7 linked regions of the Homo sapiens genome follow. The protein of the gene in region 3 purifies or fractionates together with the protein of the main gene of each other region. This does not show direct contact. Each region holds a gene or a part of one and is shown on either strand. Other genes may lie near its edges.

What was found.
Region 1: the proteins of HTATSF1 (region 3) and SUPT5H purify together in Homo sapiens (affinity purification with western blotting; 2 studies listed by BioGRID, with this or other methods). This does not show direct contact.
Region 2: the proteins of HTATSF1 (region 3) and PGK1 fractionate together in Homo sapiens (co-fractionation; one large-scale study listed by BioGRID). This does not show direct contact.
Region 4: the proteins of HTATSF1 (region 3) and ATL3 fractionate together in Homo sapiens (co-fractionation; one large-scale study listed by BioGRID). This does not show direct contact.
Region 5: the proteins of HTATSF1 (region 3) and POP1 fractionate together in Homo sapiens (co-fractionation; one large-scale study listed by BioGRID). This does not show direct contact.
Region 6: the proteins of HTATSF1 (region 3) and AKAP8L purify together in Homo sapiens (tandem affinity purification; one large-scale study listed by IntAct). This does not show direct contact.
Region 7: the proteins of HTATSF1 (region 3) and NAF1 fractionate together in Homo sapiens (co-fractionation; one large-scale study listed by BioGRID). This does not show direct contact.

The regions. Positions count from the first base shown.
Region 1 is NC_000019.10:39,455,582-39,459,081, reverse strand, and holds part of SUPT5H (transcription elongation factor SPT5), read right to left. Parts: intron 1,408-3,500; coding exon 1,342-1,407; intron 789-1,341; coding exon 777-788; intron 265-776; coding exon 195-264; intron 78-194; coding exon 9-77; intron 1-8. UniProt on the Homo sapiens protein: Component of the DRB sensitivity-inducing factor complex (DSIF complex), which regulates mRNA processing and transcription elongation by RNA polymerase II.
Region 2 is NC_000023.11:78,110,748-78,114,247, forward strand, and holds part of PGK1 (phosphoglycerate kinase 1), read left to right. Parts: intron 1-2,996; coding exon 2,997-3,152; intron 3,153-3,268; coding exon 3,269-3,413; intron 3,414-3,500. UniProt on the Homo sapiens protein: Catalyzes one of the two ATP producing reactions in the glycolytic pathway via the reversible conversion of 1,3-diphosphoglycerate to 3-phosphoglycerate.
Region 3 is NC_000023.11:136,500,592-136,504,091, reverse strand, and holds part of HTATSF1 (17S U2 SnRNP complex component HTATSF1), read right to left. Parts: intron 3,429-3,500; coding exon 3,274-3,428; intron 1,315-3,273; coding exon 1,151-1,314; intron 1-1,150. UniProt on the Homo sapiens protein: Component of the 17S U2 SnRNP complex of the spliceosome, a large ribonucleoprotein complex that removes introns from transcribed pre-mRNAs.
Region 4 is NC_000011.10:63,623,587-63,626,376, reverse strand, and holds the end of ATL3 (atlastin-3), read left to right. Parts: 3' UTR 1-2,290; downstream 2,291-2,790. UniProt on the Homo sapiens protein: Atlastin-3 (ATL3) is a membrane-anchored GTPase that mediates the GTP-dependent fusion of endoplasmic reticulum (ER) membranes, maintaining the continuous ER network. It facilitates the formation of three-way junctions where ER tubules intersect.
Region 5 is NC_000008.11:98,123,793-98,127,292, forward strand, and holds part of POP1 (ribonucleases P/MRP protein subunit POP1), read left to right. Parts: intron 1-3,500. UniProt on the Homo sapiens protein: Component of ribonuclease P, a ribonucleoprotein complex that generates mature tRNA molecules by cleaving their 5'-ends. Also a component of the MRP ribonuclease complex, which cleaves pre-rRNA sequences.
Region 6 is NC_000019.10:15,405,489-15,408,988, reverse strand, and holds part of AKAP8L (A-kinase anchor protein 8-like), read left to right. Parts: intron 1-3,500. UniProt on the Homo sapiens protein: Could play a role in constitutive transport element (CTE)-mediated gene expression by association with DHX9. Increases CTE-dependent nuclear unspliced mRNA export.
Region 7 is NC_000004.12:163,128,891-163,132,390, reverse strand, and holds part of NAF1 (H/ACA ribonucleoprotein complex non-core subunit NAF1), read left to right. Parts: intron 1-3,042; coding exon 3,043-3,494; 3' UTR 3,495-3,500. UniProt on the Homo sapiens protein: RNA-binding protein required for the maturation of box H/ACA snoRNPs complex and ribosome biogenesis.

The sequences.
Region 1 (3,500 bases), on a different chromosome or scaffold from region 3:
GCCCTTACGTCTCTCCCACAGATGACTTGGCGTATTTCTTCATGTAATACTCGCCCAGTTCTTCTTCTCGCTGGTCCCTGGAGCACGAGTGGGGAAGCAAACACGAATTGAAGGTTGAGGACAGCAGGTGGGCTGACCTACTCCCAAATCTCCCCACAGGAGCCAATCCCACCACGTTTCCCTTCCTTGCCCACCTCCAGAGGTTTTGCAGGCGGCGAGCCCCAGAACGATCTTCATCCAGGACAACATTATCGATATTGGAGGCTGAAAAATAATGGGCAGAGGGCGTGAGCAAGGGCAGGTGGAGGGCAGGGGCCTGGAGAAAATAGGAGCGTGCAGCTAAGAGGGCCAGGGTTTGGCCCTGGGGCAGGAAGATGACATCTCACAGAGGAAATCCCAACCCCTCATCCCCTACTCTGTCCTACTCAGCATCCTGCTTCTTGTCAAAAAGACTGGGGATGGGGCCCAGCAAGTTGGGGGGCTTCCAGCTGTTCCCATCTCAAAGTCCAGGCACACCCTGGACTGCACCCCACCCCACACATCGCTACCACCCACAAATGCTCAGTCCCAGACAGACACATCCGTGCTTTCCCAGGTCAACAACTGGGGTATACCTGGCCCCAGAACTCCCTGACTCTGGATCCTACATGGGTCAGAGCCCTCAGGGCCAGACCGGGGCTGGTGGGGAGGCTACCGGTGAGGGCAGGTGCCTCAGGAAGGAGGAAATGTCAGGATATGGGAGGAAGGTCAGGGAATCACACTTTTCATATTCTTACCTTCAATCTCTTCTACTTGGAGGAAGAGGAGGTGGTGGTGGTGGTGGTGGTGGTGGTGGTGGTGGTGGTGGTGGGCGAGGGCAGACAAAGTATGAGCCAAATTATAGCAGCAAAATCAACCAATGGGTTGGGGGAGGGGAAGGGAGGGACACAGAAAGGTTGAAAACCAAAAGTAAAGGCCAGGCACCAGGTGGTTGGGGAGAAGCCGAAATGTATGAGGCGCACAGAACGGAAAATAACGGGGAAAGGGGGGCACTGGCCCAGGAAGTGGGGGGTATCTTGGGACAGAGCTCGCCCACCCTACAACCCCAGAAGGGATTCACTGGGCCCTGGGATCCCAGAGTCCTCTCCCCACAACATCCCCACCCCAGGGCCCCACCCCCCACTCATGGGCCTAAAAGGAAAAAGCAGGGAGCTGGTCTCTCTGGGAAGGACAGAAAGAAGCAAGGTGAGGACGGTGGGAGTTGGGGTGTACAGGGGATGCGGGGGTCGGGGGAATGGGCTCTGAAGACCCTCTCAGCCACCCTCTTCCCAGTAGTCTTGTGGAGGCAGGGCTCACACACACCTTTCTCTAGAATGTCCTCTGCTCCATCCTCCCACTGGTCCTCGTCCTCATACTCATCGTCAACATCTAAAACGGAAAGGCCAAGTGGTAAGTGGCAAAGGTGACCTCATAACAGCTCCCAGGACACGAAGCATCTCCTCTGGGAGATGTGCACTACAAATCCCCACCGCACAGAGCAGGACACTGAGGCTCCAACAGGGAGGCACTCGTCTGGGGCCGTGCCACAGAGCTGGTGCACGCATCAGGATCGAGGGGGACATACAGCTCCAACTAACTCTAAAAGTCATCCCCTCTCCTTACTCCACTCCCAAATCCCTTTTAAAAAACTAAGATCAAAGTAAGCAAAAAGAAAAGTTCCCTCCCAACTATCAGAAAATGATCAATAAATAGTTTTTTAAAAGATGGTTCATGGTCTGTTGGTTTTATGATTCTTGTACATTTATAACAGCTAATGCTGAGAGCATACTATACACCCTGCCCTGTTCTGAGTACCTGACACAGGTTCCTCACTGATCTTCCTGGCAACCCCGAGGGAGGCACTATCGTTGTTCCTATTTTACAGCAAAGGCTCTGAGACCCAGAGAGATTAAGGAACTTGCCCACAGACTCAGCTGGGATCTGAGAGAGGCAGTCTGGCTCCATGGTCCATGTACTTAATCTCTTTACCATGTTGGATGTACTGCTTTGCAGGTATCAAACATTACACTAAAAACGTAATACATGCACATAATGAAAAACTCCAATGTCCATAGAGGATGTAAGTATCAATTAAGTCTCCCTCACATTTCTAACCCCTAGAATCTCAGTAACCTCTCCCAAAGGCAACTCCGTGACTAGTTTCTTGCCTAGAGATATCTGTGTACATATATGAAATCCATGTAAGGCTGGACGTGGTGGCTCACACCTGTAATCTCAACACTTTGGGAGGCCGAAGTGGGAAGATCACTTGAGCCCAGGAGTTTGAAACCGGCCTGGGCAACATAGTGAGACCTCCTAAATCCAAAAACTTAAAAAATTAGTTAGGGTTGGGCACGGTGGCTCATGCCTGTAATCCCAGCACTTTGGGAGGCCGAGGCGGGTGGATCATGAGGACAGGAGCTCATGATCAGCCTGGCCAACATGGTGAAACCCCCGTCTCTACTAAAAATACAAAAAATTAGTCAGGTATGGTGGTGGGCGCCTGTAATCCCAGCTACTCGGGAGGCTGAGGCAGAGAATTGCTTGAACCCGGGAGGTGGAGGTTGCAGTGAGCCAAGATCACACCACTGCACTCCAGCCTGGGCAACAGAGGGAAACTCCGTCTCAAAAACAACAACAACAACAACAACAACAAAAAAAAACAGTCTAGTCAGGCCTGGTGATGCACACCTGTGGTCCCAGCTACTCAGGAGGCTGAGGTGAGAGGATCACTTGGACCTGGGAGGTAGAGGCTGCAGTGAGCCATGATCATGCCACTGAACTCCAGCCTAGGAAACGGAGTGAGATCCTGTCTTTAAAAAAAAAAAGAAAAAAGAAAAAAAAAAGGTCTGGGCACAATGGCTCATGCTTATAATCCCCGCACTTTGGGAGGCCGAGATGGGTGGACCACCTGAGGTCAGGAGTTCGAGACCAGCCTGGCCAACATGGTGAAACCCCGTCTCTACTAAAAACACAAAAATTAGTGGCACACGCCTATAATCCCAGCTACTCGGGAAGCTGAGACAGGAGAATCCCTTGAATCCGGGAGGCAGAGGTTGCAGTGAGCCGAGATCACACCACTGCACTCCAGGGTGGGCAAGAGAAACTCCGTCTTAAAAAAAAAAAAAAAAAAAAAAAGAAGAGGCGGGGCGCAGTGGTTCACGCCTGTAATCCCAGTACTTTGGGAGGCCAAGGTGGGTGGATCATGAGGTCAGGAGTTCGAGACCAGCCTGGCCAACATGGTGAAACCCTGTCTCTACTAAAAATACAAAAATTAGCTGGGCGTAGTGGCAGGCACCTGTAATCCCAGCTACTCGGGAAGCTGAGGCAGGAGAAGCACTTGAAACCAGAAGGTGGAGGTTGCAGTGAGCTGAGATTGCACCACTGCACCCCAGCCTGGGTGAAAAAGCGAAACTCCATCTCAAAAAAAAAAAAAGAAGAAAAGAAAAGAAATGCATGTAATCCACCCCGCCACCACTATG
Region 2 (3,500 bases), about 58 Mb from region 3:
CTCAGATAAGTCAATTTTTGAGAATTTTCATTTGTTTTTGCTTCCAAAAAAACAAACAGGAAAGACTTCAGAAGTACGTTTTCAGTCAGTTTAGCTGCTCCAGTGTCTTGGATCCTAGATTCAGAAACAAATTTTAAGTGAGAGTACTGCTCTTGCTTTTGACTAGATTATAAAAGGTCTTTATTTTTGTCTTTACTTTCTTTTTAATTTTTTTAATTTTTAATTTTTGTAGATTTTATATATATATATATATGGGTTACATGAGATATTTTGATAAAAGCATGCAATACATAATCACATCAGGTTAAATGGGGTATCCATCAAGAAGGTTTTTATTTAATTTTTTTTTTTTTTTGAGACAGGGCCTCGTTCTGTCGCCCAGGCTGGAGTGCAGTGGCACGATCTTGGCTCACTGCAATCTCTGCCTCCTGGGCTCAAGCGATCCTCCCATCTCAGCCTCCCAGGGAGCTGAGACCACAGGCGTGGGCCACCACACCTGGCTACTTTTTCATATTTTTTTTGTAGAGACAGCGTTTTGCCCTTTTGCCCAAGCTGGCCTTGAGCTCCTGGACCCCGCCCACCTTGGCCTCCCAAAGTGCTGGGAATACAGGCATGAGTCACTGTGCTCCGCCTATTTTAAATTTTAAATGAAGGGTTTGTGTTGGCAAGGTGCTTTCTAATGATCTAGACCAGTGGTATCTAATAGAAATACAATGTGAGCCAAATTGTGTTAATTAAATTAAAGGGACATTTAACTTTTTTGGTACTAAGTCTTCAAGATCTGGCATGTGTTTTTATACTACAGCACATCTCAATTTGATCTAGTTATATATCTGGTACTCAACAGACACACATGACTAAATGACTGTCGTAATGGACAGTGCAGGTCTAGCCCAGAACATTTTCAGGTATTGGTCCTAGAATAGAGCCTGTCATTTTGCCAAGCACATCCCTGCTGTACCATAGTGGCAGGGTCTTTGTATAAGGCAGATCTGATCCCGCTTGATCTTCATTATTGTGCAACACACAGAAACGATTGGAAATATGCCTATCAAGTTATTTTAAGAGTAAAGAAACATGTTTGGAAATCTTTTCATTTCCGGAAATCCATGGAGTTGATTAACAAAATGAAGCATTAGAAATAATAAAACTTGCTGATAAGGGATAGTCCTGAAAACTAATTGGTTCCATTGCACAAACTTTGTACCTGATACAGATTTTTAAATTTGATATAAAGGAGTTCTTATATCTGCTAAATATTAATAACATAAGATATTTTAAAAGTATAACTTTTTTAATCATTCCATTCTTTGCTCAGATGTCATCATATCAGACTTTCCCTGGCCATCCTGTCTAAAAATCTCCTCTACCATTGTTCCCCGGTCATTTTTGTCCTCAAAAGTAGGGGAACAAAAATGGGGAACAATGGTTTGTTTTTTTTCTGTATCTCACCATCTGATATATTACATGTACGCACACACACATACATGTTTATTGTCTCTCTCCATTAGAATTTCACTTCCATGAGAACAGAGAGTTTTTAAAAAAGTTTTCTGTTTCATTCTCAGAACCTGGAATGATGCCTGGCACAAAAGAAGCATTCAATAAATATTTGATGAATAAATAAATGCTTTTCTTGATCAATTTTAATTTCTTATAAACTGGCAAAATGGCAAGTTAGTAGCAGGTTTATAACAAAACTTTTAAATGTTTAAAGGGAGTTAATTTTTTGATTAATTTATAATGTAATGAATGTGATACATTATGGAAACCAAGCTCTAGACAGTGCAATTATTTTTTCCTACATAAAAAAGTGACTTAGGATCTATTAATAGGTGCAGAAAAGTTACTACATGTTTTTTATTTTTCCCCAAATTTCCTTTGATGGTTTCAAGATTTGAGAATTTTATGTATTTTCCATAGTCATATAAGAAGTGTTTTCAGGGGTCCCCAAGATCACCCACATATCTCATGATGATTTGCTAGGACTCAGAGTTGTTCTCATGGCTAAAGTTTATTACAGTGAAAGAATGCATGACAAGATTAGGAAGAGGAAAAGACATGGGGGAGTCTAGAGAAATCCATGGGCTTCCAGTTTCCTGTGAGGGGACACATCAAGTGTTTTCCTTTCTTCAGCAGTGAAAAATGCAGTAATTGTCTGCAGTGTTTCTGCCTGGAGAAGCATGCTAGAGACTCAGATCCCAAGATTTTTGTTGGGAACTGGTAACATAGGGATCCTCTGCCTAGCAACTACCAAAATTACAAACTTCTGCTGGGTGTGGTGGCTCACGCCTGTATTCCCAGCAGTTTGGGAGGCTGAGGCCTGCAGATAACTTGAGCCCAGGAGTTCAAGACCAGCCTGGACAACATGGTAAAACCCCTACAAAAAATACAAAAATTAGCTGGGCATGGTGGTGCATTCCTGTAGTTCCAGCTACTTGGGAGGCTGAGGTAGGAAGATGACCTAAGCCCCTGGGGAGGTTGAAGCTGCAGTGAGCTGAGATTGTGCCTCTCCACTCCAGCCTGTTGGGTGACAGAGTGAGACCCTGTCTCAACAAAAAAAGGAAAAGAAAAAAAAAATTCTAGACTTCTAGAGTGGGGCAGGTGTTCAGCATAAATCACCATGTTTGTATAGACGGTCTAGGAAGAGTGAATAGCCCTTGTTGGTCTTGTCAGTTAACTTTGAAAGCCAAGTTCCCAGATACCAGCCAGGATCTAATCTTGCAGACAGGTCCTTCTGTAGATAGTAGCCTCAGGCCTGCTGTGTTAACTCTTGTCTGTGAAAGGGGCAGATACATAATGAGATTGTACAATCCTAGGTGGAGGGTTGGCATTGCATTTAACTTCTTAAGGACCACCATTGAATTACTGATAGTAGATTTGAAGGAACTTGGAGAAGAAAAGGAGCTTTATGCTTTATGAGGTTATCAATAAGCTAGTTCCCACTAATTTCTAGGAGTAACTTCATTCTGTTTGTTGTCTCTCTTTGGTTGCAGGATTAAGGCTGCTGTCCCAAGCATCAAATTCTGCTTGGACAATGGAGCCAAGTCGGTAGTCCTTATGAGCCACCTAGGCCGGCCTGATGGTGTGCCCATGCCTGACAAGTACTCCTTAGAGCCAGTTGCTGTAGAACTCAAATCTCTGCTGGGCAAGTAAGTGCCAGGCTCTGGTGCTGGTAGACTTTGTGGCGGGGGAAGTTGTCAAGCACGTTGTTACTGGTTTTTAACTTTCATACTGCTCAAGTGTCTTCATCTCTTCCTCTTCTCAGGGATGTTCTGTTCTTGAAGGACTGTGTAGGCCCAGAAGTGGAGAAAGCCTGTGCCAACCCAGCTGCTGGGTCTGTCATCCTGCTGGAGAACCTCCGCTTTCATGTGGAGGAAGAAGGGAAGGGAAAAGATGCTTCTGGGAACAAGGTAGGACCTGTGATTTTGACATTATTGGGGGTGAGGGCCTGAGTCTGTAAGAGACTGTGGTTGAAGAATAGAGAAAGCTCATTTATT
Region 3 (3,500 bases):
CAAGACCAGCCTGGCCAACATGGTGAAACCCCATCTCTACTAAAAATACAAAAATCAGCCAGGCGTGGTGGTGCACGTCTGTAATCCCAGCTACTGGGGAGGCTGAGGCATGAGTATAGCTTGAACCCCGGAGGTACAGGTTGCAGTGAGCCAACATTGCACCCCTGCACTCCAGCCTGTGTGACAGAGTGAGACTCTTGCCTCAAATAAATAAAATAAAATAAAATAAAAGGCAGAGGCAAAATGATCCCAGTATCTGAAATCCCCAGATGAAATGTTTTTCAGGGCAACTGTTGTCTGATTATACAAACATTCCAATGAGACCCTTGAAAAATCTCTAATTCTTAGTATTTATGAGTTCAGAAAGATATACCTTGAGGCTAAAAAATATATTTAAATTGTATTGGTTTTTAGGTACTTTATCATTATAAAAAACAAACTGCACTCAAATACATAAAACTACTCAACTCTGTTACAATCATAAATTTTACTGATATTGTTTAAAAAATATGTGGTTATCAATTTTACCTACACTTGTAAAAACAATGAGACATCACAACTAAATGCTTTTATGATATTTAATTAGTTTAAGCATGGTGTTAGAAGTGTCATTAGAATTTACTCTGATAAAAGTATTTATCATTTTGACTAATTTCTTAAAACTAGTATATTTCAAAGTATATTAAACAAACAGAATAATAATAGAAACTTGATGACATTATGTATATACTACATACAACTACAGTAAATACAATTATAAAATCCTGTCATTTCTAATTCCTATAACAAACCTGTATAGAAAAATTTAGCTCCTGGTACCACTGATTTCAATCCACACAGAAGTAAACGGTTCTGGTACATAAGCCTAAACTATCTTATTTAATTTGATGTTCAACGTTTTCCAAACAGATGGCTTCTCTTAGCTCATTTAAGCCCTTATTATATTACAAATAGACACTCTGGAAAATTAAAATCCCCACCACTGCTAAATCTAAACCTATTGTATAGATTGCTAAAGGTACCTGATGAGCTAATGAAATTATTTTAAAATAATGTGTAGGCACACTTGACAGAATAAAACTAGATGGCTATTACCAAAAATATACTCTAGAATATATGGAACCTTTCAAAAGGGAAAAAAATTACAAACTTTTGTTGCATAGACAGCTTCTTCTTATAGTCTTTGCACTTCTTCTTCTTCTTTGAGGCATCATATTCTCCCTTCAGTTGAAACTTTGCCACCTCAACATGTAATTTGTAGCCTCTAATTTCATCTTCATCCAAAAGTTTTAATGCAAGTTCCACAGATTCTCTCTTTATAAATGTAAGACAAAATATAGTCAGTTATACAACGAAATAAAACTTCAGGAGTTTTTTAGATGAACGATGATTATACATAAAATAATTTAAATTCTTATATTTATATATTATGAATATACGAGATCTCGTTCTCTCTTTGAGATAAAGAACTCTAGAATCTGAACCAGGAAACCCGCATCTGAGACACAGCTGTCCCTAACCGGCTGTGTGAACTTGGGTAAATTATTCAAGCTTCCTGAGCCCCAATATCGTCGTATGTAGAATGGAAATAGTTAATACCTTCATCACAAGGTTCTTGACAAAATTAAATGAAATAATGCATGGAAAGGATAAGGACTAACATATGGTAGGTGTTCAATAAATATTATTATTGGGTAATTTTGTCTCTTGAGGCCACAATTTCTCATTTGCAGAATGAAGGGAGCAAATCTGCATGATTTCTAAGGTGTATTTCTTTTAAAATTCTATAATACTCTTACTTAAAAGACTAGATGACTCAAGGAATTGGGAACACCATAGACAGCCTTTAATTTTTTGGTTCATCCATTAAATTGTGAGTCTGTAATACACTGAGAAGTAGAAGACAATTATCTGATGACTTGTACTTTATATTAAATACATGTATGGATTCCAGGTCTTAGAGAAAGGACAGTTATCAGCCCTATACAAACAGAGTCAAAGATCAGAGGACCTGTAGAAAAGAAAAATGGATAACTGAACTCAGCTGCTCACATATATGGGTCCTGGAATAATTCACTATATTTTCCTGGAACTCAATTTACTGTTTTGACAATCTTGTACTTCTATGGGTCTCAAAACTCAATTTTTTTCCTTTAAAAATTTAAAAAATCTAACAGAACTCCCTAAGAATCTGTTCGCAGATTTTTTAATAATCCTTAAAGAACTTATAAAACCCTCAAATCTCCTTACATTTGAACATTACAAAACTACCATCCTAAAATGGTCATGCTCATGTCCCATAACCATCACGTTTAAGATTCAGGTCAAAAACCTATTTCCCAAAAAGCTGTCAGCTTAATCCTACTCTCTTCTGATCTCACTGGAATACTGTATACTCACAACACACCTGTGGTGTTTGTACTTTTGCTTTACCATTTTGACTTTACTCTGTAATTATTTCCAGGTTTGACTTATGTACATGTCATCATTTGTTCTGTACCCTGTGATAATGTATAACACATGCTCCTAAGGTGGCAGGTGTTCCAGAAATGATGGCTGCCTCTGGCATTGAGGTTTCTTTGTGTAATTTATGGTACTATGACTACATGAAGTTCTGCAAATTTCTCTTAATACCACTCTCTCTTTTCTCACATTCAAAAAAATATTTTAAAGCAGTAAGAATAAGCTATCGTCTCCTTCATGGTCTAATTCAAGGGTCAGAAAAATCCTTTTGTTAAAGGGCCAGTTCGTAAATATTTTAGGCTTTGTAGGCCACAAGGTCTGTGCTGCAACCACTCAACCCTATCAGTGAAACACAAAGGCAACCATAGACAAATGCATAAATGAATTAGTGTGGCTGTGTTCCATAAAGCTGTATTTACCAAAACAGAGCCCGAGTTTGCTGAACCCTGGTGTAATTCATTCCAATGGACAACTAAAATGTTACTGGCTTTTTTTCTTCTTGAATTTTTAAAATGTAGTCTGAATTGACTGTACACATCAATAAAAAAATCTTTCTAGTGAGAATTTTTCAAGACAGAAGAAGCACTCCAGTCGCATACTTATATAATACTTTTACCTGATAACATATTTTCTTAAAACAAGTGAATAATCTTACCAATGTGATACACACAGGTACTAACTGAAATTTCAGTTTTCTTCATATCCTGTTTTGAACAGTTCTTGGTGTTGGTTATCATCTATAGAAATTATAGCCCTGGTTCCTGAGTTAAAAACGAAGATACAAGAAACTTATTTGATCATACAACTTACTTTCAAATAACAGCAAAGACCGTCTCCTTTAAGATTTCCTTGATTATCTTTGTAAAGTTTGACCTTAAATTCTTCTGTCTGAGGATCTCTCATAATAATGCCAAACTTGGACATAAGTTGTATAAATTCATCCACTGTAATATCTGGAGGCAAACCTGTCATTTAAGAAAAATTAAAAAACATTTATAATTGATAATGAAGGTGAATTACTTAGCATTCTACCAATT
Region 4 (2,790 bases), on a different chromosome or scaffold from region 3:
ACAGAGGTCTCGCTCTGTCGCCCAGGTTGGAGTGCAGTGGTGCAATCTCGCTCACTGCAACCTCCACCTCCCAGGTTCAAGCGATTCTCCTGTCTCAGCTTCCTGAGTAGCTGGGACTACAGGTGTACACCACCACGCCTGGCTAATTTTTGTTTTTTTACTAGAGGTGGGGTTTTGCCATGTTGGCCAGGCTGGTCTCAAACTCCTGACCTCAGGTGATCCACTCCCCCCAGCCTCCCAAAGTGCTGGGATTACAGGCATGAGCCACCCCGCCCAGCTGAGTCATGCCTTATTTTCGTAGTATACCAAGAAATGTTCTATGGAAGTTTACGTTTTAACACCTCTTTTATACTTGGTAAAATTGCCTGTGTTTCGCTTTATTCCTTTTTTTTTTTGAGACGGACTCTTGTACTGTCACCCAGGCTGAAGTGCAGTGGCGCAATCTTGGCTCACTACAACCTCCGCCTCCTGGGTTCAAGTGATTCTTTTGCCTCAGCCTCCCAAGTAGCAGGGATTACAGGCATGTGCCACCACACCCGGCTTATTTTTGTATTTTTAGTAGAGACAGGGCTTCGCCATGTTGACCAGGCTGGTCTCAACTCCTCTGGGAATCCGCCTGTCTTGGCCTTCCAGGGTGCTGGGATTACAGGCGTGAGCCACTGGAACCTGGCCTTGTTTTGCTTTATTTTTTCTCTTACATGAAGTAAAGCGCTTTGGTCAAACACACAAAAATACTGCCTTGTACTGGTGGTTGGTTTCATTAGTGGATCACACACAGTGTTCTACTTGGCTTGTAAAATGGTGCCTTGGATAGGGTGAGTTTGGATAAGTATGTATGTATGTATGAGTTATAGCAAAATTAAGTAGATTGAATCAAGTCCATGCAAAAGCAATAAAACAGTTTTAATTTTTTAATTTTTTAAAAATTAAAACTTTAATAAAACAGTTTTTAATTTTTTGCTAGGTTCTTTTAAAAAATGATGTAACTTACATGGAAGTCTTCACAGGACTTTTTTCTTTCCTGGAACTATTGAAATGTAATTTAGGATGATTTGATCTTCCATCTCAAGTTGTCAACATGGCTGTGTCATTCTGGCTTACATATGTTTTATTTAACAAAATTCTAGTCAAGGGATAAGGGCATAATGAAGACAAGCTTCAGTTATGAAAGTACAAACTATTTGTGTGATTAATTTTTAAAAATGACATTAAGAAGCCCATTGTAAAATAATATTTGCAGTCAAATGGTTTTTCTTGCTGTAAGTCCTGTTGTAGCTATGTTTAGGGTAGTGGTTCTCATCTACCTTGGAGTGCATAAGACTTACCTAGCAGGCTTGTTTAAAAAGTTCAGATTCCTAGCTTTGTACCCAGGGATTGCCTCAGGTGGTATGGGCTGTGGTCCTGGAGTCATCACTTTTATAAATAGTGGTTCAGAGACCACAGAGAGAGACTGCTTCATCGAATGGGAAGTACCAAGGAGAAAGTACAATTCAGTATTGTCTGGAGGCAAGTGGACACTTTGTACCTGAGGTTTAGAATAGGTGGTCTCTTGCCAGTACAATCCCCAGGCGTTTTCTGTGTTCAGAAGTAGTAAGAATGCCTTTAATTCAGAGGATTATCTAAGCTCTTTAAAGCTGTTTTTCTCCATTGTCATAGTGCCTTCTCTGAAAAATGAATGTACAGGTATCCTATTTTCTAATGTAATTAGGATTTTTTAAAAGCAATTTTTGATAGTTTTTCTTTTAAAAAGTAAAATTCAGCACTGTGACTTGAACCCCCAAATCTTTCACATACAGGTGAAACATTAAGCCACAAATAAAAATAATGAACAAGAAAGAAGACAAGATCCTAATTCCTGTCATTAGTGACCTAAGTACCCCATATCAGAAACTTTGCAAAACAGATCTAGGGACAGAAGGGCTTTGAAAGACATTTTTCTTTGGGGCAAATTTCGTGTGCCAGAACTACAGTTTAAATGTTTTTATGAGCAAGGGAAGGTAGCATTGATTCCCATAGCTTTCTAATTAGATACATGCTGTCATGGATGTAAGCCTTAAAGGAGTTAATACTAATCTTGTACATACACAAATTTTCCTCAGGTTTTTTTATTTTAAAAAATGATTTGTTAAAAGTACTGTCTGCTAGACCCTTGCCTTTGAGTGGCTTTGAAACTTAATATAGTTTTTAAAAAGTGCAATGGGATGAGATTATGCTATTAGTATATTAAAAGCATGTTTCTGTTTTACTCCAATTTGTAAGATCATTTAATGGAATAAAGATCACAACACCATGTTATCTGTGTTTTCTTTCTCTGTGTTTTTAATATGGGAGGTTCTGTGAAATAGTTTGGCTTGGCAAAGTGAATAAGACTTCTGACGGGATAGTGGCAATGTGGTTTGAGTTAGCTTTCTCTGTCCTACAAAACGACACTGAACAAGTGTCTTACTAGCATAGTCCTGGAGAAGGCTCTATTGTTGGCAGGGTTGCTTAAAAGTGAGCACAAGGGCCAGGTGTCGTGGCTCACTCCTGTAATCAGCACTTTGGGAGGCTGAGGTGGGAGAAATGCTTGAGCCCAGGAATTTGAGACCAGCTTGGGCAACATATGGAGACACTTTCCACCTCTGTCTCTACAAAATAAAAGTGCATAGTGGCACCCACCTGTAGTCCTAGCTACTCGGGAGGCTGAGGCAGGATGATCACTTGAGCCCAAGAGTTTTGAGACCAGCTTGGGCAACATATGGAGACACCTTCCACCCCGTCTCTGGAAAAAACAAAAAACAAACCCAGGCA
Region 5 (3,500 bases), on a different chromosome or scaffold from region 3:
TACACATGATGCTCTCTCCACTCCCATTTTGATCAAATTGCTTTTGTCAGCTCTTTTGATAGTCATTATCTAAATAGTAAATGAGCTGAATTAAAAACAGATACAGTAGACCCTTATTATTTTTGAGTTTCCTATTTGCAAGTTTGCCTACTTGCCAAAGCTTATTTGTAACCCCAATATTAATACCCATGAAGCTTTGGCTATCATTTGTGGACATACATAGAGCAGGAAAAATTTGAGTTTCCCTGTGTTTACGTTCCCAGCCGAGCTTCCCAGCTGTCATGCAGAAATGGGCAGAGGATGGAGGCAGTATAAGGGCAGGGCAGTACAGTGCAGGAAGCTCCAGCTCTCCTGGGGTTTGAATCTCAGCCCTGGGGCAGCCTCATGCAGGTCACTTAGCATTTCTAGACTTCATTTTCTCTTTTGTAAAATAAAGGAAATAAACTCTACCAGGAGGAGTTGTTTTTTGGATTTAAGATTATAATATGGCCAGGGGCGGTGGCTCACACCTGTAATCCCAGCACTTTCAGAGGCTGAGGCGGGCGGATCACCTGAAGTCAGGAGTTCGAGACCAGAGTGGCCAACATGGCGAAACTCCGTCTCTACTAGAAATACAAAAATTAGCCAGACATGGTGGTGTGTGCCTGTAGTCCCTGCCACTTGGGAGGCTGAGGCAGGAGAATTGCTTGAACCGGGAGGTGGAGGTTGCAGTGAGCCAAGATCGTGCCACTGCACTCCAGCCTGGGTGACAGTGAGACTGTCCCAAAAAAAAGGAAAAAAAAAAAGATTATAATCTATGTGAGATGAAGATATGTATGTATCCCCACTAGGAGGAATGGTTCAGTATTCACTAATTCATTGACGTAATTCAGGGACGTATGAAACATGACTACTATAAATAATGAAAATTGGCTATGCATATTTTAGAGCTGGTATATTTTATTTCTACCTTAACATCAATGATTATTATACTTCTGTGTTTCCTAAGAGAAGTGCAGTATAGTCATCATATCTGTATTTCACTGGTGTGCTGATTTTAGAACCTTATGAAGTGATAGGAAGATCACAGTTGTTCATTAGGGCAGCGGTAGAAAGTGCTAATTTGGGAAGACAGCAAAAGCAAGTGTCCAAGGACTTGTTTGGAGTGCTTTAAAAAACTGCATTGGGTCTGATTAAGTAAATTTTAGAGTCAAGTTCATAAGGTCTAGATTCAGATCCTACAGTTGATGCCTACCATGCCATATGATAAGGCTTTCACATTTTTTTTATCTCATTTAAACCTCACAATGTTCTAAGATTTATAGTGGCTTAATAATTAACACCACAATTGAAATAAGCAGAAACACTATAAAATTCTCTACTGATCTCTCCCTTAATTTACAGACAGTTTTTTTTTTTTTTTTTTTTTTTTGAGGCAGAGTCTTGCTCTGTCACCCAGGCTGGAGTGCAATGGTGCGATCTCGGCTCACTGCAACCTCCACCTCCTGGGTTCAAGCGATTCTCCTGCCTCAGCCTCCTGAGTAGCTGAGACTACAGGCGTGTGCTGCCACTCTTGGCTAATTTTTGTATTTTTAGTAGAGACAGGGTTTCACCATATTGGCCATGCTGGTGTCAAACTCCTAACCTCAAGTGATCCACCTGCTTCGGCCTCCCAAAGTGCTGGGATTACAGGCGTGAGCCACTGTACCCGGCCACAGACAGATATTTAATGTTGTCTTATAGTCATAATGCCCAGACACTTGTATGGAAATGTTGCCTTTTTTTTGGAGATGGAGTCTTGCTCTGTTGCCTGGGCTGGAGTGCAGTGGTGCGATCTTGGCCCACTGCAACCTCTGCCTCCCGGGTTCAAGCAATTATCCTGCCTCAGCCTCCCGAGTAGCTGGGACTACAGTCACATGCTGCCACACCCAGCTAATTTTTTGTATTTAGTAGAGACGGGGTTTTACCATGTTGCCCAGGCTAGTCTTGAACTCCTGAGCTCAGGCAATCCACCCACCTTGGCCTCCCAAAGTGCTGGGATTACAGACATGAGCTACTGTGCCTGGCTGGAAATTTTGCTTTTTAAAGTTTTAAGACAGGATCCCACTCTGTCACCCATGCTGAAGGGTAATGGCACAATCGTGGCTCACTTCAACCTTGACCTCCTGGGCTCAGGTGATCCTCCCACCTCAGCTTCCCGAGTAACTGGGGCTACAAGCATGTGCCATTATGCCCAGCAAATTTTTTTTTTTTTTTTTGGTAGAGACAGGGTTTTGCCACGTTGACCAGTTAGTCTCAAACTCCTGGACTCAAGTGATCTGCCCACCTTGGCCTCTCAAAGTTCTGGGATTAGAGGTGTGAGCCACCACATCCATCCTGGAACTTTGCTTTTAGTTATTTATTTAGTATAGTGGCTCTCAATTTGAGTGTGGCAGAGAGTTAGGATAAAAGACTGTACACAATCATGTGGATTATAGTATTAAGGGAGTGTCGTTTGGGCTGCTGTAACAAAATACAGGTTGAGCATTCCTAATCCAAAAATCTGAAGTCTAAAATGCTCCAAAATCCAAAACTTTTTGAGCGCCGACATGACATGACAGGTGGAAAATTGCACATCCGACCTCATGTGATGGGTCACAGTCAGAATGAAGGCATATAACACACAGTTTATTCAGCATTCCCATGGGAAAAAAGATGTTCCCAGCCCCCTTCAGCTGTGATATAAATATTTCCAAGCACTCCCAGATTTCACCACGTAAGCACACCCACAAAGACAAATAAAATACATGTAATTTTTACTGTTAAATACTTACATGTGAGTAAGTGTAAGAAAGTGATTGCTTATCAGTAGCATATAGATTCAGAGTCAGGAAGGATGCTGATGCCAGCCAACCACAGATTGTCCACAGGGTGGCTGAGATAGTGGCACCTTTGCTTTCTGATGGTTCAAGTATACAATGTGCAAAAAGTTTCATGCACAAATTATTAAAAATATTGTATAAAATTACCTTCAGGCTGTGTATGATAAGGCGAAAGAAGTGTAATTGAATTTTGTCTTTAGACTTGTGTTCTATCCTCAAGATATCTCATTTTATATATATACGAATATTCCAAAATCCAAAAAAATTGGAATTTGATACACTTCTGGTCCCAGTTATTTCAGATGAGGGATACACAACCTGTATCTTACTGGGTAGCTTATAAATAACAAATGTATTTCTCACAGTTCTGAGGGCTGAAAAGTCCAAGATGAAGGAGCGGGCAGGTTTGGTGACTGGTGTGGGCCTGCCTTCTGGTTCATATACAGCACCTTTTCACTGGTTCTCACATGGTGGAAGGAGCGAGGGTCTCTGTGAGCACTCCTTTATAAGGATACTAATCTCATTCATGAAGGCTCTACCCTCATGACCTAATCGCCTCCTAAAGGCCCCACCTCCTAATACCATCACCTCGGGGGTTAGGATTTCAACACTGGAATTTTGGGGGACATAAGCATTCAGACCATAGCAGGGAGCTTAGAT
Region 6 (3,500 bases), on a different chromosome or scaffold from region 3:
ATAGGTTAAGGTTTCTTATTCTTCTATGGCATATAAATATATAATTGTTCCAGCACCATTTGTTTAAAAAACAAAAACAAAAACAAAACCATTTTTTCTTTCTTTTTTTTTTTTTTTGAGACAGAGTCTCACTCTGTCCCCCAGGCTGGAGTGCAGTGGCGCGATCTCAGCTCACTGCAAGCTCCGCCTCCTGGGTTCATGCCATTCTCCCGCTTCAGCCTCCCGAGCAGTTGCCCGCCACCACGCCTGGCTAATCTTTTTGTATTTTCAGTAGAGACGGGGTTTCACCGTATTTGCCAGGATGTTCTCGAGCTCCTGACCTCGTGATCCTCCCGCCTCGGCCTCCCAAAGTGTTGGGATTACAGGCGTGAGCCACCGCGCCCGGCCTCTTTCTTTCTTTCTTTCTTTCTTTTTTTTTTTTTTTTGAGATGGAGTTTCGCTCTTGTTGCCCAGGCTGGAGTGCAATGGCGCGATCTCAGCTCACCACAACCTCCACCTCCCAGATTCAAGCTATTCTTGTGCCTTGGCCTCCCAAATAGCTGGTATTACAGGCATGTGCCACCACGCCTGGCTAATTTTTGTATTATTAGTAGAGACGGTTTCACCACATTGGCCAGGCTGGTCTTGAATTCCCCATCTCAGGTGATCCACCCGCCTTGGCCTCCCAAAGTGCTAGGATTACAGGTGTGAGCCACTGTGCCAGGCCTATATTTTCTCTATTGAATTGCCTTCGTACCTTTACTGAAAATCAGTTGACCATATACTGTGGGTCTATTTCTGGACTCTTGGACTCTCATTCTGTTCCATTGGTCTGTACATCTAAATTTCGTTCAGCAGCACGGTCTTTTTGTATTTTTAGTAGAGACTGGTTTCACCATGTTGGCCAGGCTGGTCTCAAACTCCCGACCTCACATGATCCACCTGCCTCGGCCTCCCAAAGTGTTGGAATTACAGGCATTAGCCACTGCGCCTCGCCCAGCAATGCAGTCTTGATTACTGGTTAATAGTAATCTTGAAATATGAGTCCTCCAGGTTTGTTCTTTTTTCCAAAATTGTTAGTTTCTTTGCTTTTGCATATAAATTTTAGAATCAGTTTATGAAGTTTTTTAAAAAATTCATGCTGAGATTTTGAGTGAGAGAGCCTTGGATCTATAGATCTATCAAATCTGTAGAATCTATAGATTAGTTTGAGAAAATTGACATCTTAACAATATCAAGTCTTCTGATTCATGAGTGCAGTATGTCACTTCACTGATGTAGTGTTTTGTAGTTTTCAACACAGATCCTACACATACTTTGTTAGATTTACGCCAAGTTTTTCATGCTTTTAGTGCTATAGGAAATGGTACTTTTAAAAACTTTCCATTCATTGCTGATATATAGAAATTTGATTGCTATTTGATTTGTAGGTTTACCTTGTAATATTTGAAATTTGACTTACAGATTGACCTTGTAATAAACCTTGCTAAGCTCACTTATTCTAGTAGCTCTTTTGTAGATTTGTTTGAGATTTTTTTACATACACAATTGTGAAAGAATAGAGATGGATTTATTTTTCCTTCTGGCTTGAATTGCAAGAACAATATAACATTTAAATAACATTTTGAAAAACAGTCAACCAAGATCCTACCATATTAATGTTTAATTTTTATCAGCTTACTGATTTTGTGTAGTTTAATAATTTATAGGTGGATAGAATTGTGGGTACTGCTCTTATTTTATTTTATTTTTTTAAGATATGATCTCACTCTGTCCCCCAGGCTGGAGCACAGTGGCACAATTTCAGCTCACTGCAACCTCCACCTCCTGGGCACAGATAGCCCTCCCACCTCAGCCTCCTGCATAATTGGGACTACAGGCATGCCCTACCATGCCCAGCTATTTTTTGTATTTTTTCTAGAGATGGGGTTTTGCTATGTTGCCCAGGCTGGTCTCAAACTCCTGGGCTCAAGCGATCTGCCTGCCCCACTTCCCAAAAGGATTACAGGTGTGAGCCACTGCGCCTGGCTGGTCCTGCTTTATTTTATGTTAGAAGCATTTCCTTGTGCCACATAAGGCATAGTAAATTCTTTTTATATGCTTACATGATATGTCACCGAGTAGGTAGGTGTAATCTGATTAACTATTACGTTAAAGTTGAGTGTTAAATTGTTTTCTATTTTTGGTCCATAAATATCACATACTGTGACCATGTCCTTTTTTCTTTTAAAAATTATGTCCTTGGGGCCAGGTGCAGTGGCTCATGCCTATAATCTCAGCACTCTGAGAGGCTGAGATGGGAGGCTTGAGCCCCCAGGAGTTTGAGACCAGCCTGGGCAACATAGTAAAACCCTATCTCTACAAAAATAGAAAAAATTAGCTGGGCATGGTGGCACATGCCTGTTGTCCCAGCCACTCCGGAGGCTGAGGCAGAAGAGTCACTTGAACCCAAGAAGTCGAGGATGCAGTGAGCTGTGATCACACCATTACACTCCAGCCTGGAGGACAGAGCAAGACTCTATCTCAAAAATATATATGTACATATATCTTATTTTTACATATATATGTATATATTTAATAATAATAAATATATAAATTTTAAGGATCTCTCTCTCTCTCTCTCTCTCTCTCTCTCTCTCTCTCTCTCCTTAAAATTTCTTTTGTCAACCATGATCTCATCCCTTCTGGGGATGGAAATGAGTTGGGGTGTTCTTTCAGAAAGGGCAGGTCTTGGGGAGTCCCTAAACGCCAGTCTAGATGAAGGCTTCCTCCTGAAGGGACCCAGCTGGGATGTCCATCAAGGAGTCTGGGTTGCTCCAGGCATAGCAAGTGGCATGTAGTGAGTGTTTGCCTGGAGGGACTCCTGAGAGTTGCCCATCGTGGGAGGCCCTGCTTGTCCTTAAAACGTAAAGTGGTGTTCACGGAGTTGATGCTGCTTCCTTTCGTTGTGCCTCCTCACTCTGTTGTGGCAGATCCTCAGCAGGTGAAGCTTGCAGTGACCACATTGTAGCCTCCCAAGCAGAGCCCTGATGGATCTGCTTTTGCCTCCATATCCTATTTTCTTTTTCTTTTCTTTCTTTTTTTTTTTGAGACAGAGTCTCGCTCGGTCGCCTAGCCTGTAGTGCAGTGGTGCAATCTTGGCTCGCTGCAACCTCCACCTCCCAGGTTCAAGTGATTCTCCTGCCTCAGCCTCCCAAGCATCTGAGACCATAGACGCGCACCACCACACCTGGCTAATTTTTGTATTTTTAGTAGAGATGAGGTTTCACCATATTGGCCAGGCTGGTCTCGAACTCCTGACCTCGTAATCCACCCACCTTGGCCTCCCAAAGTTCTGGGATTACAGGCATGAGCCACCACGCCCAACTCCTATTTTCTTTAGAATAGCTAGTGCCCACTGTCCCTGGTACAAACAGTCACTTGGCCAGGTGTACAGTAGCTGCCTGGGCTACCTGTGTGTTGTTCTATTTTTTTTTTTTTGAAATGGAGTTTCACCGTGTCGCCCAGGCTGGAGTGCAGTG
Region 7 (3,500 bases), on a different chromosome or scaffold from region 3:
CTCTTCATTACAGAGTAACATTTCATGGCATGAATTTACCAGATTACCTAACCATTCATCCATTGAAGGACATCTAGGTTGTTTCCATTTTGGGGTTATTAGGAATAAAGCAGCTATAAATATTTATATACAGGTTTTTTGTGAAAAGAGGTTTTCATTTTTCTGGAATAAATGCCCAAGAGTATAATTGCTTGGTTGTATAATAGTTGCATTACATGTTTAGTTTCCTAAGAAACTACCATACTGTTCTTCAGCATGGCTATACCATTTTACATTTTTATCAGCGATGTATGAGTGACAATTTCTTTGCATTTTCTCCAGCATTTGGTGTTATCACTGTTTTTAATTTTGGCCATTCTGCTAGGTTTGTAGTGCTAATATAATTGTGGTTTTAATTTGCATTTTCCTAATGGCTAATGGCATTGAACATCTTTCCATGTGTTCATTTACTATCGGTATCTTCAGTGATATGTCAGTTCATTATCTTTTGCCAACTTTTAAATTGTATTGCTGGATTTTTACTGTCGAGTTACGAGAATTTAAAAATGTATATTTTAGATACTAGCTTTCTGTCAAATATTTGGTTCGTTCATGATTTGTTCTAGTCTGTAGTCTTTTCCTTCTTTTAAGATGGCCTTTTGCAATACTAAAGTTTTTAGTTTTGAGGAAAACTAATTTATCAATTTTGTTTATGGAATCTGAGAACTTCCTGCTTAGCTTTAGATCCTAATGATTTTCTTCTATTTTTTCCCTAAAAGTTTTGTAGTCTTCTGTTTTAAATTGTACACTTGTGATTCATTTTGAGTTAAATTTTGTATAGAATGTGAGGTTAGTCTTAAAATTGCGTGGAGTGATAACTCCTACTTTATTTCTCTTTTTCAAAATTATAATCGGTATTCTAGGTCCTTTACCTTTCAGTATAAATTTTAGAATCTTCTCTACATCAACAAATGTCTTGCTGAGGTTTTTTTGTTTTTGTTTTTGTTTTTGTCTGTTTTTTGAGATATTCTTGCTCTGTTGCCCAGGCTAGAATGCAGTGGTACAATCATAGCTCACTGTAACCTTGAACTTCTGAGCTTTTTTCTTTCATTCTCCTGATAGTATCTTTCGTGGAGCAGAAATTGTTAAGTTTAATGAAATTCAGCATATTGATTATTTCTTTCATGGGTCATGCCTTTGATGTCCTATCTAAGAAGTCATTATCTAAAAAGTCATTATTGGCCGAGCGCAGTGGCCCAATGCCTGTAATCCCAGCACTTTGGGAGGCCGAGGCAGGCAGATCAGGAAGTCAGGAGTTCAAGACCAGCCTGGTCAACATGGTGAAACCCCATCTCTACTAAAAATACAAAAATTAGCTGGGCATGGTGGCGCATTCCTACTTGGGAGGCTGAGGCAGGAGAATTGCGTCAGCTGGGACCCGGGCAGCGGAGGTTGCAGTGAGCTGAGATCGTGCCACTGCACTCCAGCCAGGGCTACAGAGCGAGACTCCGTCTCTAAAAAAAGAGTCATTATCAACCCAAGGTTGTCTAAATTTTCTTCTATGTTATCTTTTAGGAATTTTGTAATTCTGCATTTTACATTGAGGTCTGTGGTCCATTTTGAATTAATTCTTGTGAACGGTGTAAGGTTATTGTCTAGATTTATTCTTTTTGCATGTGGATGTCCAGGTGTTCCAGCCCCATTTGTTGAAAACACTACTTATGCTCTGTTGTATTGCTTTTGCTCCTTCGTTAAATATCCGTTTATTATGTTTATGTGGGTCTATTTTTGTATGTTTATGTGGGTCTATTTTTGTACCTTCTATTTTGTCCCATTGATTTATTTGTGTGTCCTTTCACCAGTACCACACTGCTGTGATTACTTAAACTTTATAATACGTCTTGAAGTTGGGTAGTTTCCGTCCTCCAGCTTTGTTCTTCTCCTTCAATATTGTTCCATTGAGTTTTTAATTTTGGTTATTGTAATGTTCAGTTCTAAAATTGCAATTTGTTCTTTATTTTATATCTTCTTTTTTTCCTAAAACTTTGTAATTTTAATTTTTTAGAATGTTCATAATATCTTGTTGAAGCATTTTTATGACTGCTTTAATACCTTTCATAATTCTAACATCTTTGTGACACCCTTGCTTGATTTATTTTTTTCATTGAATTTGAAGTCTTCCTGGTTCTTTTTGTGATGAGCAATTTTCTTTTATTGCAACCTGGGTATATTGAGTATTATATTACAAGACCATGGATCTTATGTAAATCTTCTGATTTAGCTGGGTTTGTTGTGATTGTTTCTTTGTCTTTTTAAAAATGCTACTCTGGCAGCGAAAGGAACAGGGTAGATTGAAGTCTAGGTATTCCTCTTAGCCTCTGTTGACACCTTTGGCCAAGGGGTGCCTTGTTACTGCTGGATGAGGGTAGAAGTTCTGACATCCCACGAGGTCTTATGCCTGGTAGGGACAGGAGTACTTTGTCACTCCTCCCCATATGGTATGCACTGACACCAGTGGAGGATGGCCTTGTTATCACTGGTTGGGGACAAAAATCCTAACTCTACTCCATCTTCTCTGACATTGCCCCAGTGTAAAAGAGGGAAGAACACTGGGTTGCCGCCAGTGGAGGTGGAAGTTCAGGTTCCCCATGTGATGTTCATTGTTTGCAGGGAGGCTTGTTACTGGCACCCTGTTCAGCCTGTTCCTGATGCTACTGTGGTGGAAGGGTTGGAGTACCTCATTACTGCCTGTCAAGGATAGAAGTCTAGGATCTGTACTCAGCCTTTGAGAGTGTGTAGGGATGGTGCCACATTTTCTTCTGTGGTGTTTGGCTAGAGTAGAATGGTTATCATCTAAGTGTTTTCTGACTTGCTGGGTTCTCTTTCTTTGGCATTAAGTTTTGTCTTTTCAGTTCATTTCAAATTTACCATTTTATGTCTTACACTTTTTTAACTGCCACAAGATATACTGGATAATAAAAATCATAATTGAAATTTCAAACAATGCTTTTTGATATATTAAACTTATTTTCCTTTTTATGTTTTCCCTCCCCTCACTCAAAGGTGAAGATTTTACTGAAGTACATCAGAATTGGAATGCTCATAGCTCTGCTTCAGAGCATGCAAAAGGATATCGTAACAGAGAATTCACACGAGGATTTTCCAGGGCCAGATACCCTCGATCTTGCCATGGCAGGCCTCCACCTCAGCATTTCTATAACTCAGAACATATGGTATCTCAGGAGACTTCAGGATTTCCTTCTCAGAGACAAAATAATCCCATTATGCCACAATACCCCTTTCCTCTTCCAGTGTTTGACATGCATAATTTTCCCCTCCGCCCTCCACCCCCACCACCACCCCCACCTGTAAACATGGGTTGGGCTACACCAAACATGGCTGCTCATCCATTACTTAACTTACCATACTCCCTACCCCCACCCCCTCCCCCTCCACCACTGCCTCCTCCACCCTCTTCTGGAGATAGTAATTCTCATTTTGGACCTTACTATTAGGTGACT